Regions from separate parts of the Homo sapiens genome. Here region 1 is linked to region 2. A link means that fine-mapping ties the variant in region 2 to the expression of a gene that starts in the linked region. Tissue or cell type: whole blood. Region 2 holds a variant in brackets; the other region holds the start of a gene. All regions are shown on one strand. Distances are between the middles of the regions.

Region 1 (8,104 bases), 34 kb after region 2:
CAAAGACAGCTTGCTTCCTTCTAACTCTTGGACAACGGCATTTGTCCCCTTTAACGTCCACCATTGAGGATGGTCCTGTGTCCCGCAGGGGGATCTGTGTCTTACTCCGTGTCTTATTCACCTCTGCGACACCTACTATAGGTCCCCATCAGTCCCACAGTGCATCCAGCAGACTGTGCACTTGAGGGCGGGGCTATTTCCAGCAAAGACCCTGCACACAGCAGCCTCAGGAATCCATGGCTCTGACTGGCTGGACCCTGGGCTGAGGCAAGGACCACTTCTGATGCATCTCTGGGTCCCAACACTATCCACTGCAAGGCCTCGAAACAGGGGGGCCAGATGGGACCCCCATTTAGCACAAGAGAGACGTCCACACTCTGTGAGCCCAAAGGGAGAAGGCTCAGGCCACGGCAGAGACGGAACCAGGAAAACGTCACGAAAAACAGCCTCAAGTTGCCAGGTCCCTTGCAGGAACAGACAGGCCTGGGGCCGCCCCACCTGGGCTCAGAGCTTGGGCTGGTTTCTCTGCAGCTGTAAGGTGACAGCTCTGGGCTCCTGGGACAGGGCCACTGACACTGGAGGTGTGACTGCTCGAACTCCACACCTGCCTTGCTCTCCCTGATGCTGGGTGAGTGAGGCCTCCTTGGGGGTTGCATGGATCTCAGCACTCAACTTCCGAGCCACTTGTGCTTCTCCCACTATGCTGGGGTTCCCCTGAACCAGCCAGCAGCCCTGCGTGTAGGAGTCCTCGTGGACAGTACACCCCACTAGGCAGGGAGTCCAGCGTCTCCAAGCCAATGACTAACACCTAGAGGACTTCGGAACAGCCTTTGTCCCCCTAGACCCCAACCTGGGGGCGGAAGGGGGCGGTTGTGATGGTCAAGGGTCTGGGCTCTGGAATCGCAGTAGACACAGGTTCTGAAGCTGCTGGGGGCCTTGGGCTAACAAGTGCCATCCAGAGCCTCCATCCCATACCCCTAAAATGGAGGTGACCACCTCCATCCCAGAGCCTTGAGAATTTAGGACAGTGAGGACCAGGCACTGGGCCAGGTTCCTGCAAAGTGTGCACCAGCAAGTGTTGTCGAATCTGCAGTTTCTCACACCACAGAGGCCCCAGCACCTGGCACAGTCCTCACTAGGCTGGAGGCCTCAGGATGCACCAGAGGACACACGAACGAGGTTTGGAAAGGCCTGTGAAACATGTCTGAGGATGGGTGTCCTGAGAGCTGTGTATGCCTAGTAACAAAAGACCTCCCAGGGCAGCCAGGCAGTTGCTGGTGGCCTTGAGCTGTGACCCCTGCCATTCCCTGCCCAGAGCCCACTGTCATCCTCCCTTAAGTACCAGGTTCCTGGTAGCCAATCCTTCCTCTCTATCTTTCAAGACACAATACCTCCCCTGCACCACACACCCCTCCCTCAAGGTCAGAGCTCCCGGGAGCACTCTGGCAAATCTCCCCACCCCTCTGCCCAGTGTGAATGGGTCTCAGCTGCTCTGGGACAGGGACTGTATGATTCCTGCCAGGCTGCCCAGCACGGAGCACCACTCTACCTTGTGCTTGCACAGAAGGGCCTTGAGATCCCTCTCTTCACCCAGGCTGGGCCAGGCACCTCATCTGGGCCCTCACAGGACAGTGCTGTGCCAAGACCATGTGTGACCTCATGCCCAGCACAGGGCCTGGCCTGTGCAGCCGCCTGGATGGATTACATTTACTCAGGGAATTGTGAACTTGCTCTCGTTTTTAGACAACTGAAGGGAAATTGAACCTGGGAAAAGGGAAGTGACATGTCCAAGGTCACAGAAGTGGAAGAGACAGTGCCAAGGCCAAGGCCCAGGAAAGGGCCTGGCTCCAGAGCCCTTTCCATTTACTTTACACCCATCTGTTGAGGTCTGCTCTGGCTCTAAAATGAAAGCATTAAGAGCCTTCCCGCTGAGGTCAATACTATTATTACCACTCCCACTCTGTCCTGGTGGAAAGTAAGGCACTGAAGTTACTCGTCTAAGGCCACGAAGGTGAGTGGTGGGGCTGGGACTTGAACCCAGGCCTGCCCAGTCCCAGAGCTCTTGGGGAATACAACCCAGTGCCTGCACACACTCTGGCAGTGCACCAGGGAGGGGCCAGGCCGGGTGCCCGGATGGATGGATAAGACATGAGATAAGCAAGCAGGAATCTGATCTGGATGTTCTCTGAGGCCGTGCGTGGCCGGAGGACCACAGGGACTGCGCAGAGGCAGGCAGGTGAATGTCAGCAGCGTTTAGCCAAAGAGGCTTACGGTCTTCAGAGGAGCTAAGCCAGGATCAACGCAACTGTGCTTCCCGGCGCTGGGGTCAATCGGATCCCCAGATGGGTTCTAAGCACTGCGCAACATGGGACCTGGGAGCAGGACACCGCAAAGAGCAGACCAAGCCATTCCTTCCCTAAAGCCCTGACCATCCCCCGGACTGGGCTGGGTCAAAATGCCTTCCCTGGCTCCCACAGCCCCCAGACCTCTCCATCAGGGGTCTGGTCACCTTGGATGGCGACTCTGTCGCCCGGGTCTCAGTCTCTGCCTTCCACCCAGACTCCAAGCCCTTGTTCATCTCCCTGCTCCCTGTCTCTAGTGCCCGGCACAGGGCCTGGCACTGGAAAAACTTCTGCCTCCACTCACTCCTGCCTTCTGTGTCTGTGGGTCACTTTTCTGTGCGACTCTGCAGGTCCCAGAGCACTCATCCACATGAATTGGGGTCAGCTCCCTGGACTGGGGGTCGGGGTGGGGTGTCAGGAGGGCGGGGCTCCACTCTGATCCACTCGGCACAGGGGAGGGAGGCCTCAGGAGTCGCCACCCGATCCAGTCCCCGCCTTCGCCCTGCCCCGTGGGCCACGCGGTGGCTGACCTTGGCCCAGTCACTTCCCCCGCTGGGGACGCGCTTCCTCCCCGCCTGCCGAGCAAGGACGAATGAATGGGCCTCCTGCCGGCCAGAATCCCCGTAATTACCCGCCTGATCAAAGGCCACGCGCAGCCCGCCCGGGGCAGCAACGGGACCCGGGCTGACTCGAAAAGGGGAAGGAAGGGCTGGGGGGGCCGAGGGCTGAGACCGTGCCCTCGGGGCCGCGGTATCCGGCCAGGCCAGCCCAACCGCGCGGCCCCTTCCCCCACCTGGGCCTCAACTTCCCCCCGAAGTCGCCACCACTTCCGGCCACGACCGGCGGAGTTGGAACTTCGGGGGGACGGACAGCGGCCCCACCCCCGACGGCCCGCAGCAGAGGGACCCCCACCGAGGCCCCCGCTCCTGCCCCCGCCACGCGCACGCGCGCGCCCTGGACCCGGACCCGCGCACGCGCACCCCCCCTCCAGCCCCGCTCGCCGCCCGCGGGCCGCCCGGGCGCGCGTCCCCTCCCACAGCTCTTCGGCGCGCACGCGCACTCCCCCCGCCCGCGTCACCCCGGCCGCGCGCCCACTCACGCCCCCCCAGCAGCGCGCACGCGCGCCCGCCGCCCAGTCGCGCTCGCCCTCCAGTCTCCCCACCCACCCCCAGCCCAAGCCCAGCTTCCCGAAGCGCGCGCCCACCTGGCCCCCAGCGCACGGCCCCCGCCCCCACCCCTCACCTCCTTGGTCCCGGGGCCGCCGCGCCGCACTCCTCCTCCTCTCTCCTGCCTCGCGGATGGTGGCAGCGGCGGCAGCGGCGACTCAGACCCTGGGGTCAGGGGGACGGGCGCCCAGGCCGGAAGTGACCTTCCCGGCCGCTTCCGCCCGCGCCGCTCCCCCCCTTCTCCCTACTCCCTGCCCCCCGGGCCGCCACCCTGTCCTCGCCGCTCTAGGAAGGCGAGCCCGCTATCCCGGCCACCGCCCCCAGCTCTGTGGTGCCCGGCGGGCGCCTGAGGGAGCCACTTCCGGAAGTGTCTAGGACGCAGGTCCTCCGTCCATGCTCTATGGCGCCCCGCGCCGAGGGGCTTCGGCCCCGCCCCCTTCCCGGACAGGAGGTGCGGGCTGGGCCCGTTAGGCGGAGACTTCCGGGTGTCTAGGGCGGTGCCCCCCCGACAACCCGGGCTCCTCGCGCCTGCGCGGCCGGGTCCCCGGGCCCGCCGTGAGGAGAGTGAAGTGGTGGAGAGGGACGCTCGTGCCACCCCGGGTCCTCCTACCGTCTCTATCATGGTAACCCCTTCTCTGCCGCTGCACCTCCCAGTGGCCCGAGTCCAGGTGCCTTAGTTACTGGACAGAGACCCCGGGTTCCTTAGTTACTGGACAGAGAGTGCTGCGCTTCAGGTGCCATGGCCTCAGTTTCCTCCTTTCTGAAGTGATGAAAATACATTGTGCGCCTCCAAGTGCTTCACACGCACTAGGTCCTAGTCCTAACTAGGGCCTCATGGTAGGTCCTATCCCTATGTTGCAGGTGAGGAGTCAAATCACCTACCAAAAGTCACACACCCGGAATGCCAGAGCCTCGGCCCGAACCCATGGAGTTTGGCTCTAAATTCGTGTATTTAACCCTTGACTGTACACACTGCCTCGTGTCATAGCCCTGAGAATCCACTACTTCCCCCGCGTTAGGTAGGCACCTAGTAAGGACGCACTGGGTGTTAGCTGTTACTGTTGGTATTCTTGCAAAAAACACATATTTTAAAATAATTGTCCAAACCATAGTGTCCTTGTAGGCTGGTCCTTCTGGTCCTTCCTCTGTTCTGTACTTGGCTGACTCTCACCTAAGTGGCAGATGACTTATCGCTTATAATTGTTATCATCCTCACTGGTAGTCAGAAAAGATAAGAAGCTATAATTCACTGGTGGAATAACACCTTTCTCAGCCTCAATTTCTCATCTGTGGAATGGGAAAAAATAAGATAACCTGCAAGGTAATATGTGTAAGAGCTGCTTAGTTCAATACCTGGCCCATAGTAAGTTCACAAAAATGATGGTGGTTATTATTACCTATTAGCAGTGTTACATATAAGTCTATTGTTGTGGCCACTGTATACCCTCAAAGCTCAGTGAGCATCAATCATAAGATGTATATTATTGATTTAATAACATCTTTCCATGGGGTGGGGTGAACAGTGCTGTGTTAACTGTGTGTGTCAATAGGAGGATATCTGTGTCCCTCCTTCAGAAATATCACAAAGGTAAATTTTTAAATATATCTTAGAACAGAAGGAAGTGTGGCCGGGTGCAGTGGCTGACACCTGTAAATCTCAACACTTTGGGAGGCAGAGGCAGACGTCAGGAGGTCAGGAATTCGAGACTACCCTGGCCAACATAGTGAAACCCCATATCTATTAAAAATACAAAAATTAGCTGGGCGTGGTGGCGGACACCTGTAATCCCAGCTACTCGGGAGGCTGAGGCAGGAGAATGGCTTGAACCTGGGAGGCAGAGGTTGCAGTGAGCTGAGATCGCACCACTGCACTCTTGCCTGGGCGATGGAATGGGACTCCGTCTCAAAAAAAAAAAAAAAAAAAAGAGAGTGAAGTGCTATCATAACAGCAATAGAAACAAATTATTAGGGTACAAACTCTACACGAGGAAACCTGTTTATAAGAAAAGTCATGTGCTTGTGCTCCTCTGAATCAGATCATTCAGTGGGTGTCCTGCAGTGACCTGGTTGTTGGGAGGGACAGCCTCCTCCCTCTCCAGCCCATTCCCCTTCTTCGCTGGTCAAATTGACAACGGCAAGATCGAGAACAGCTCATTGGCACACCAGATGGAAGCCAACACTGAGGATGGAGGAGAAACAAGACACAGGGAGCCAGCTAGACACTGGATGGCTTCGTGAAAGAGGCTCCGTGCCAGCTGAGATTTTATGTGAGAGAAATCACTTTCTAACTCACTGAAACCATTGGTAATTCTGAGTCTCTCCCTTAAGGCAACCCAACCAATACCAGGATGTTTCCCAAACATGGGATGGGTTGCAGCCGACATGGCTTAATTGACAATTAACATCTGTTCTTCCCTTCCGCAGTACAAAATCACTCTTGGGATGCTGCTTCCCATCGATGGATTCTGTTTTCCACTCCTCTTGGCATCTAAGTGTGGCCTTGTGATTGGTTCTCACCAATGGGATGGGATGGAAGCGATACAGGCCTCTTCCGAGCCAATGCTCTTAAGAAACATGTATGTTGGCCAGGCACGGTGGCTCACGCCTATAATCACAGCACTTTGGGAGGCCGAGACGGGAGGATCAGCTGAGTCCAGGAGTTCGAGACCAGCCTGGCCAACATGGCGAAACTCCATCTCTACTAAAAGTACAAAAATTAGCCAGGCGTGGTGGGCGCTTATAATCCCAGCTACTCCGGAGGCTGAGGCAGGAGAATTGCTTGAACCTAGGAGGCAAAGGTTGCAGTGAGCCGAGATCCCACCACTGCACTTCAGTATGGGCAAAAGAGTGAGACTCCATCTCAAAAAAAAAAAAGAAACATCTGCCTGCTTCCTGCTCTTTCAAGGCCCTAAAGAAAGAGGGGAGCCCCAAGAAACCTGGGTCCCTGAATGACCACCTTGTGGAAATACATCCTGTCACCTAACATCTATCCTAGATTGCTACATGATCAAGAAATACACATCTAACTTGTACACCCAATGCTCATAGCAGCATTATTCACAATAGCCAAGAGGTGGAAGCAACCCAGTGTCCATTGACAGATGAGCGAATAAACAAAATGTGGCACATAAATGCAATGGAATAGACCAGACGCGGTGGCTCACATCTGTAATCCCAGCACTTTGGGAGGCCAAGGCGGGCGAATCACCTGAGGTCAAGAGTTTGAAACCAGCCTGGCCAACATAGTGAAACCCTGTCTCTACTAAAAATACAAAAAATTAGCCAGGCGTGGTGGCGGGCGCCTGTAGTCCCAGCTACTTGGGAGGCTGAGGCAGGAGAATCACTTGAACCCAGAGGCGCAGGCTGCATTGAGCCAAGATCATGCCACTGCACTGCAGCCTGGTAAACAGAGCCAGACTCCGTCTCAAAAAATAAAAATAAATAAATAAATACAATGGAATATTTTTTAGCCTTAAAAAGAGAGAAAATTCTGACACAGGCTACAACATGGATGAACCTTGAGGACATTATGCTAAGAGAAGCAAGCCAGTCACACAAGAACACATACTTTATGATTCCACTTATATGAGGGACCTAGAGAAGTCAAATTCATAGAGACAGGAAGTAGAATGGGGGGTGCCAGGGGCTGGGGGGAGGGGAATGGGGTGTTAGTGTTTATTGGAGACAGAGTTTCGGTTTTGCAAGATGAAAAGAGTTCTGGAAATGGATGGGGGTGATGGGTGCACAAGACGTCAATAGGTTTAACACTACTGAACTGCACAGTTACAAATAGTTAAGACGTAGCCAGGCGAGGTAGCTCATGCCTGTAATCCCTGCACTTTGGGAGGCCAAGGCCTCCTGGCTGAGGTCAGTAGGTCAAGACCAGTCTGGCCAACATGGTGAAACCCTGTTTCTACTAAAAATACAAAAATTAGCCGGGCGTGGTGGTGCATGCCTGTAATCCCAGCTACTCGGGAGGCTGAGGCAGGAGAATCGCTTGAACTCGGAACGCAGAGTTTGCAGTGAGCCGAGATCAGGCCACTGCACTCCAGCCTGGGCAACAAGAGTGAAACTCCGTCCCTCCCAGACACACACAAAAATAGTTAAGACGTTAAATTTTATGTTATATATAGCTACAATTTGAAATGTGTTTAGAGGAAAAAGTACCCTTCTAACGTGATGTGCCATTACAATGTGTGCGTTTCTTTATTACAGCAGCTTCACCCTTCCCTAATACAGAGTTTTCAGATGCCAGGCAGTAAAAATGGTAAAGCTCCCTTTCAGGGGTGCATCAGCATCTAGATGGAATTTACAGCCTCGAGTCTGAATAAAATTGGGGTTAGGGGGCAATGGTGAGTACGGAGAGAATTGCAAATGGCTATAACAGCATCATTTCACCCAAGTTGGCCCATCAGTGGCTTTCTCTGGATCCTTCTCTTTGGAGAGTCCCTCTCTGGCATAGATGCCGGGATGTGAGAGGCTGGAAAGCTCAAGGCAGTCTTGCTTCCCACCGTGTGGAGGAAGCCAGTCTGCAGGAGGAGAAAATGAAGCCTCACAGAGAGGTGAGAGTTGGAGGGAGACAATGTCCCAGCTGAG
Region 2 (8,104 bases):
TTAAACTGAGCTCCATCATCCCAGACTCAGCTGTGGGGGTGGGGGTGGGGGGTGGGGTGGGGGGGGGGGGGGAATCTCTGTCCATGGTGCTGAAAGACCGGCGCCAGAAAATAGGGAATTTCTGGATAGACTTGTCCATCAAGGCAGGAGAGGAGGCAAAATCAATGGTGCCAGAGGCAACTCCGTCCCCACCCACAGCCTCTTTGAGTGGTAGATATGAGGGGAAGGAGGGTGGATGTATACCACAGACACACACATACCCACATGCGCACAGACATACATATGCACAAAGATACAGATGCACCATCCACACAGACATGCATTCATACATGCAGAGACACACACAATTCACATGCATGCACTTCTCTAAGGATGGCCTGGAGTACACCAGCCCAAGATGCTCTATAAATGGAAGGTTTTCTGACAGAACAAGTTCAGAAAATGCTGCATGTTTTCACCTACCCCTGCCCTGGCCCCCAGCCCCACCCGGGTATACAGAATCATAGTGGAAAGTTCTGAGCCGGGTGGGTGTGGGGGGCTAGTTTTATAATTCATCCAGTCGACTAAATCTTGGCTCAGCACCTTCCACCTGCCAAGTACTGTTCTGTGTATGAGAAAATTTCAATCCGGCAGGGTGCAGTGGCTCACACCTGTAATCCCTGCACTTTGGGAGGCCAAGGTGGGTGGACTACTTGAGGTCAGGAGTTCAAGATGAGCCTGACCAATATGGTGAAACCCCATCTCTACTAAAAATACAAAAGTGAGCCGGGTGTGGTGCTGGGTGCCTGTATTCCCAGCTACTTGGGAGGCTGAGACAGAATTGCTTGAACCCAGGAGGCAGAGGTTGCAGTGAGTCCAGATTGCACCACTGCACTCCAGCCTGGGTGACACAGCGAAACTCCGTCTCAAAAAAAAAAAAAAAGAAAACTTGAATCCAGCATTTTCCCAGGTTATTTGAATACAAGATCCTGTTTTCTCCAAACATCTTAACAATATTCCCTGGAACCTACACTCTCCAGGCTACCCTTAGGGAAACGGGGCTGTATGGAATAAAATCATTTCCAGATCAACACTGCCTTCAGGCTGGGGAGTAAGCTGGGTGGAGGGTCCCTTTCCACTCACCTGTCTGGCCCTCACTCCCCCTGGGATTGCCTGTCACACCTGCCCCCTGCCCAGGACTCCTCCACCTCCTGCCTCCTGAGAGCCTCTTTTTGTCCCTTCAGCCCTTAGCTGTGTGTATCCCCTCCCAGCCCCCATGACAGCAGAGATTTGTGCCTGTTGAGGTCACTGCTGTGCCCCCATGCTTAGCAGAGTCCCTCACAGGAAAGAAGTGCCCGATAAACACCTAAGATTAAGTGGATTATCAACTCAGCAGGGGGCCGGGGGTGGGGGGCATGGGTGTCAGGACTTTAGATCCAGATTAAGGTTCTACCACTTTACAAACCAGTAGCCTGGGCAGGCTGCTTCCTCTCCTCGTACCAGCTTCAGCAGCAGCAGCCGAGGAATGATGGCAACCACACAGGGCCTTTGTGAGGACTGGACTCCGTAAGGGGCGTGAACGAGTCTGGGCGTGCCCTCCACCAAAGTGAGCATGAGAGGAATGGGGGCCGAAGGAACTTCTGCGGTCACTGCCAGGGTGGGTTTGTGAGCATGGAGCGGCCGCCTAGCCTCACCTTGCCGTGGGTGAGCAGCTCCAATGCAGGTGAACTACAGGGCCGACGGCAAGTGCCACAAGAACCCATGTTCCTTTCTTTACCTGGGACCCACGCCGTGCCTACTGGGCACGGAGCTGCTGCCCAAAACACATTTGTAGAATGAGTGAGTGAGGGGTGGGCAATGACTACCTGAGTGCATGAATCAGTAACGGACAGCGTGTGACACCAAAGCACAGGTCAGGTGTTGGGTCCGGTGCAGGCTGATGTCAAGGTGGTCATGTGAGCTCGCTCAGTTCTGTATTACAAAGTGGGATGAGTAGTGCAGAGCTGGGATTTGAGCCTGGCTCCTCGCCCCTGCATCTTTGCTCATGCCTGGGAGGGCAGCTCCAGTGAGTTAACACATGGCTTGGGGATTCCCCCCTCCACACACAGTCATACAAGGCAGGCAGGCAAGCTCTCCTTTCCACAGGGCAGGAAGCCAAGGGTCAGAGAGGTTAGTCCACTTGCCCAGGGTCACACAGCCTTAAGGGGCAGGGTGGAAACTTGCCCTGAATCTTTCTTGCTATAGGTGTCAGCTCCTGCCACCATATACTGGAGCAGGTAGAAGAGGCTGACCCGAGACTCAGTGTGCCCGACTTATGGGGCACCGAGCTGCCAATTCTACCAGACAGGGCACCTCCCATCCTCCCAGGCCTCCAGAAGTGCCCAAGGCCAGAGCTCCACAGAAGGACCCTAGGAGAAGTGAGCAATGCTTCCTCAGTCTTTGCTAACCCAGCCCACTCTGAACTGCCAAGGTTCACCCCCTCCTTTCGAGTGACCTGAAATTTCAAAAACTGACATGCAATACCAATTATCTAAGCAAGGCTCTGGCCACTTGAGAACACGCTTTTTTGATCCACAATCACTCCCTAGTCCTCTAACAAATCCTCCAGGATCTGTAGACCATCAGTGGCCCTGGTTTCTAAACCCCCTGCCTCCAGATGAGGCCCCAGGACCCTCCTCAAGCACATCAGGGTGTGAAAGGGCAGATTAAGGGCTCTAACTGGAAATCCGAATTTCTCCTTCAAGTCCCCCTCTACTATGAAACCCCCAAGTCAAAGACGCCTGCAGCTTGCCGCCTCCAATCGCTCCTGAGTAATCGCAGCCTTCAGCCAGGTTGAAAATACCCCTTTGGGACCCTCACTGCGGCCTCCCAAGGCCCCAGGAACATGGGTCCTCAGGACCTGGGCTGTGGGTCCAGGAAACCAGTCGCCATGGTCGAGCCCCCTTCTGATCATGAACAACAGCGCTCACCTGGCAGGGCGGCTGCAGCGGCTCTACCGGACCAAGCCCCTCGGGCACGCGCACTGCCTGAAATGCCCTAAGCGCTCGGCTGGACTGTGGCATACCCGCCCTCTCCCCCAGCCCCTGGCTGGCTCGTCTGCCTGGCCCCTGCAGCAGAGACAGCTGAGCGCACCATCCTCCTCCCGTAGGGGGCGGGGGGTCCTGTCCCCGGAGCGGCAGCCGCCGGGACCTCATCTCCCAGCCTCCTTCGCAGGGAGCCGCAACCACGGGACCAGCCCCGTGAACGACCCAGGTAGGGGGACGTGCGCCCTTTGCAGTCAGAGTCTCCCCCAGAAGCTGGAGGCAGGAGGAGGGTGCTTTTGGGGTTAGGGGCGGGGGCCACACGATAGGAGTGGAGGAAGCCAGCCGCCCCTGTGAGAGGGTGGTAGAAGCCGTGGGGGCTCCTTCCCCTGCAGCGGGCAGGCCTGGCCCTGACCAGTCCGCCCTGCCCCATCTACAAGCAGCTCCCAGGCCCTGTGAGTGCCCGCACCATAGTGAGGATATCCGCGGACAGGCCCCCCTGCCTAGAGCCCTCCGCGGGCGACCCAACGGGCCACTCCCGGGGCGCGGCTGACGCTCTGCTGATGCCCCGGCGAGAGCCTCCGTTTACCCCTCTTGCCCTTCTCCCTCCCGGACTCAAGAACCACGCAGAGGGGGACATTTGGATAGTGCCGTTTATTGTTCCAGCACCCCTTCCTCCACCACGCCCAGGCCTGGGACAAACGGGCACCCGCCTCCTGCGGCGCTGCCTCTGCTACCCGGAATCCAGGAGGGGAAGGAACGACTCGAGCTCTAAGGATGGGACCCGGAAGGCAGAAAAAAATAATGGATTGGGGCGGGCGGGGAGTCAAAAGGTGGGCTGA[TTAAAAGAAAATTC/T]TAAAAGAGAAAAGGGCCCCTGGTTCTCTTCCCTCTCTGGGATCCTCTAAAGGGCCTGGTTTCTCCATTCCTCGCAGCACCCCCCACCCCCGCCCCGGACAACTGAGGAAGAGCAGGGAAAATGGCCTTCCGCTTGGGGCCTGGTCGCCACTCGGCCTCTGCAGTTCTCTCCATTGTCTCTCCGGCTCGCAGGCCGATAACTTAGGAAGGGCGGGCCAGGCTGAGGGGGCAGAGTCTCGAGGCGGAGAAGTGAACGGGCCCTAATACGCCCCAGTGCCCCCCCACGGACGGCGCAGGGACAGAGGAGGGCGGGGAGCCGGGGATGCCGCGGGGTCCATCGCACCCCGTCCGCTTCTCCCTGGGTCTCTTGGTCTTGCACGTCGTCGCTCCCGCCAAGCCCGAGGGGCCCTGCCCGCCCCCCCCCCCGGGCCCCTCCCCTACCGGCCCTCCCCACCGCGGCACTCGGGGCACCGCCCGCCCGCGGCCTCGTCGTCGTCGTCCTCCTCCTCCCCGCCCGCGCGGTAGTAGCTCTGTCCGCAGCTGCTGCAGACCGAGGGCGCGCCCACCGCGTGGATCTTCTTGTGTCTCCGGAGCGCGGCGCCCTGCACGAAGCCCTCCCCGCACTCCACGCAGATGTGGGCCGGCTCCTCGCCCCCCGCCGCCCCGAGCCCGTCCCCGTGCTGGGCCCGCTGGTGCGCCAGGAGCCCGGCCCCGTGCCCGAAGCCCTTCCCGCACTCCAGACACACGTACGGCTTGGGGGCCGGGGCGCGCCGCGACCGGGGCCCCGCGGCCTTTGCCCCCGCGCCCGCCATGGCTGCCGCGGCCGCGGCCCCCTCGCCCGGCGCGCCCACCACGATGATGCCCTCGCCATCGCCCACGGGGATGGCGATCTCGCCGTCCGCCGCCACCGCCTCTTCGGGCCCCTTGGCCCGCCGGACGCTAGCCGCCAGCACCTTGGCCGCCACGCCAGGCCCCGACAGCTCCGGGTGCAGCCGCAGGTGACGCGCGAGGCTCTTGGGCTGGCTGAAGCCGCGGCCGCAGCGCGGGCACACGAAGGGCTTGAGGCCGCTGTGCGAGCGCCGGTGCTTGGCCAGGCTCTTGCTCTGAGTGAAGCTGCGGCCGCAGTCGGGGCAGGTGTAGGGCTTCTCGCCCGTGTGGATGCGCTGGTGCTGCATGAGGTTGGAGCTCCAGCTGAAGCGCTTGCCGCACTCCAAGCAGGCGTAGGGCTTCTCGCCCGTGTGGATGCGCCGGTGCTGCACCAGGTGCGAGCTCTGCGAGAAGGTCTTGCCGCAGTCGGCGCAGGCGTTGGGCCGCTCGCCGGTGTGCGTGCGCTGGTGCCGCGTCAGCTTGGACCAGTGGCTAAAGCTCTTGCCACACTCGTTGCAGATGTAGGGGGCGGGCGGCCGCGGCCGGGGAGGCGGGCCGGCTGGGGGCGCAGACTGGGGCGGGGACAGCTTGGTGGGAGGCCAGCTGGGGACGTCGTCATCATCCATGATGAGGATGTCCACTGGAAAGCAAGAGGGTAGGGGGAGGTGAGTCAAGAGAGGCAAGGGCTCCACGCCTGCCTTGGCTGCTACGCTGGCCTCGGGTGCCTCGCTCCCCCTGGCGCAGGACCTGCCCTGGTGTCCTCAGAGTGTGCATCACTCCCTGCATTTTACTAAGTATTTATTACCCCTCTCCCCAGCTAAGACCTCAGCTCTGTGTGAGTTAAGACCCTCAGTTTACCCCCAACCTCTAGAACAATGCCCCAGACACAGAAGGCCTGGTCTGTAAACAACCAGGCAACATAAGAGGCATGGGCGAGGGGCGGGATCCACGGAAGGCTCCCAGAAAAGGACCCCGAAACCCAAAACACCAGCCTGGACGCCGGGGGCAGAGGATGAGGAAGGCTCACGGGCAAAGGTTCCACTAGGCAGAGGGGCCGCAGGGCTTGAATGCAGCCCTGGACACCTGGTCCTGAGCCAGGGAGTGGGTTTGGCACCCTGAAGACGTGCCCGCCAGGGAGCGATGGTGTCACATTCGGGCTCCAGGAAGACAATCCTGGCTGCAGACAGGTAATGGGATTGGAGATGAGCATGAAAGCCCCACCTCCGAACCTGGGAGTAAAACCTGGCTCAACGCCACCTCCATTACAGAGGCTATGGTCAGCCCCTGGTGTGGGGGCTCCTGTCTGCTCAGTGAGGACAATTCGGGCACACAGGGCTTTGCCTGCACATCTTTACACTGAGGACGCCCTTCCAGCAGTCAACGAGGCCTTTCACACTTCTGCACCAGGCCTGCCCCTGGGGGCTCTCCCGGGAGGGATGGGCTTGCCTCCTCCCCAGCTCATTCACTCCTGAGAAGGGTCCGTGTGCAGCTTCTACATTTGCTCTCCCTTGGGGCCTGGTCCAGAGCAACAGAATCAGGTGGGAGGGCCTCAGCAAGTGCATCTCTGACCCCCGTGGACACCCCAGGTGCACCCCACAGGGTTTTTTCAAAGCCATGAATCACAATTACAACGTTCTCACTCCTGACCTTACTAGACTGTAAGCTCCTAAGTCTCTATCCCAACACCTGGCACGGTGGTGCCCAGCACACAGAGCCCAAACACCCTCCCAGATGCCACGCTGGCAAACACGCAAGGAAGGGCCATGACGCCCCCCTGCGCTACACACTTCAGCGTCAGGTCCTCATAAGCTGGGAGCACAAAACTGAGCCTTTACAAGGGAGAAACTGAGGCACTAGGGAGTCGAGTCACAGCCCACAGCTACACGACTACAAAGTGGCAATGCCCAGAAGCGCATTAGTAGACTGGGTCCAAGAAACAGCCATCTACCACTAACTGCGGCCGCCCACCGCTAAATCCCCCACCCACAGGCAGCACACCCTACACGCTAAGGGAGTGCTCCACAAAGTGGGATCCTGCGACCAGTAGCATCGGCGCCACAGAGAACATATTAAAAACATTTATGCACTGCCCGGAGCGGTGGCTCACGCCTGTAATCCCAGCACTTTAGGAGGCCGAGGTGGGCAGATCACTTGAGGTCAGGAGTTCAAGACTATCCTGGCCAACATGGCAAAACCCCATCTCTACTAAAAACACAAAAATTAGCCGGGCGTGGTGGCGCATGCCTGTAGTCCCAGCTACTTGGAAGGCTGAGGCAGGAGAATGACTTGAACCCGGGAGGCAGAGGTTGCAGTGAGCTGAGATCACACCACTGCATTCCAGCCTGGGCGACAGAGCAAGACTCCATCTCAAAACAAAACAAAAACGCTTATGCTCAGGCCTCCCTCCAGACGCACTGTATGAGAAAGTGCCGGGCCGGGCCTGTGCTTCAGCAAGCCCCCCAGGTGATTCTGATGCCAGCTCCAGTGTGAGAATCACTATTCCAAGGCAGAGAGTATTCGAATATGGCTCTTGAACCTGCGGCAGAAGAAAACACTCCAGGTGAAGTCAGGAAGGGGGGAGCCTTCTGGAGAGATGGCATGGAGCCCACTGCGTTGTCAACATAAATCAAAAAATGTTGTAAGTTATAAGCACATTACTTAAAGATGTAGAGAGAATTAAAAACAAACATCAGAAGCTATTTGCCCCGGGGCAGTGTGACTGAAGGGGACAGAAAGGGACGGGCAGGAAAGAGATTTGTTGTCACCGTAAACCGAGCCATACTATCTGAACCTTACAAGTGCTTCTACGCCTTTAATTAAAATAACTGCTTTGTTTTCGAAGCTGTGAAGAAAGAAAGTGTAGCAATGCTCCCTGTGACTCAGCTATGAATAGCATTTATTCATGACGACATGAATTCTGAACACAAAACTTGTGACACAGTGGCAGCTAAGACAGGGGCACTGGGGCGGGTGTGCAGTACGTGGAGAGCGCAGTGAGTGGAGAGTGGGGAGAGGATGTGGGAGCCATGTCCTCACCTCCCATTAGATTTGCAACTATCAAAGCAATTTCATGAGCTCTTTACCTAGAACCAGGGAGAACCCCAAAGAGTGCATGGAGGGGCTCCTTCCTCTAGAGGCAAACTGGGAGTGGGGAAGGCAGGAGGTGGGAGCTGTTTTCTGCTTTAGGCCGTAGGCGATCTGGCTTCTCTACAGGCATCTCTGCACTACTTTTTCTAAGTACGAGTTAAGCACTGTTAAATGGACAGGGTTTAATTACTTAAAAGGCAGGGCTCTTTTACATCTTGCAGATTCCTGGGCTCTGCGCAAACCTTCCCGTGCTGCATCTCAGTAAGGCCCAGGAAACCGCGCTTCACAGGCACAGA

The links. PIP is the estimated chance that this variant, and not a neighbour inherited with it, causes the effect.
Region 1: it holds the start of ZNF787, and the variant in region 2 is fine-mapped to the expression of ZNF787 in whole blood (INTERVAL, PIP above 0.99).

Annotation. Positions count from the first base shown.
Region 1 is chr19:56,117,588-56,125,691 of GRCh38, forward strand. It overlaps ZNF787 (zinc finger protein 787), which reads right to left and starts at 3,708. Exons shown (of 3, transcript NM_001002836.4): 1 at 3,585-3,708. LOC124904772 (a long non-coding RNA gene) reads left to right here and starts at 4,023. Exons shown (of 2, transcript XR_007067348.1): 1 at 4,023-4,345; 2 at 5,933-6,958. RefSeq lists enhancers at 1-608, 348-517, 2,753-3,047, 3,475-4,190 and silencers at 2,795-2,844, 2,925-3,244, 3,535-3,614, 3,625-3,744, 3,835-4,204.
Region 2 is chr19:56,083,732-56,091,835 of GRCh38, forward strand. It overlaps ZNF787 (zinc finger protein 787), which reads right to left. Exons shown (of 3, transcript NM_001002836.4): 3 at 3,635-5,361. The coding sequence ends at 4,292. Among named protein-coding and RNA genes, the nearest start is that of LINC01864, 21 kb to the left of the region's middle. RefSeq lists enhancers at 1,280-1,781, 1,782-2,281, 2,617-3,216, 7,189-7,358, 7,488-8,104 and 1 more. The variant TTAAAAGAAAATTC/T (reference allele first, on the strand shown) is at 3,842.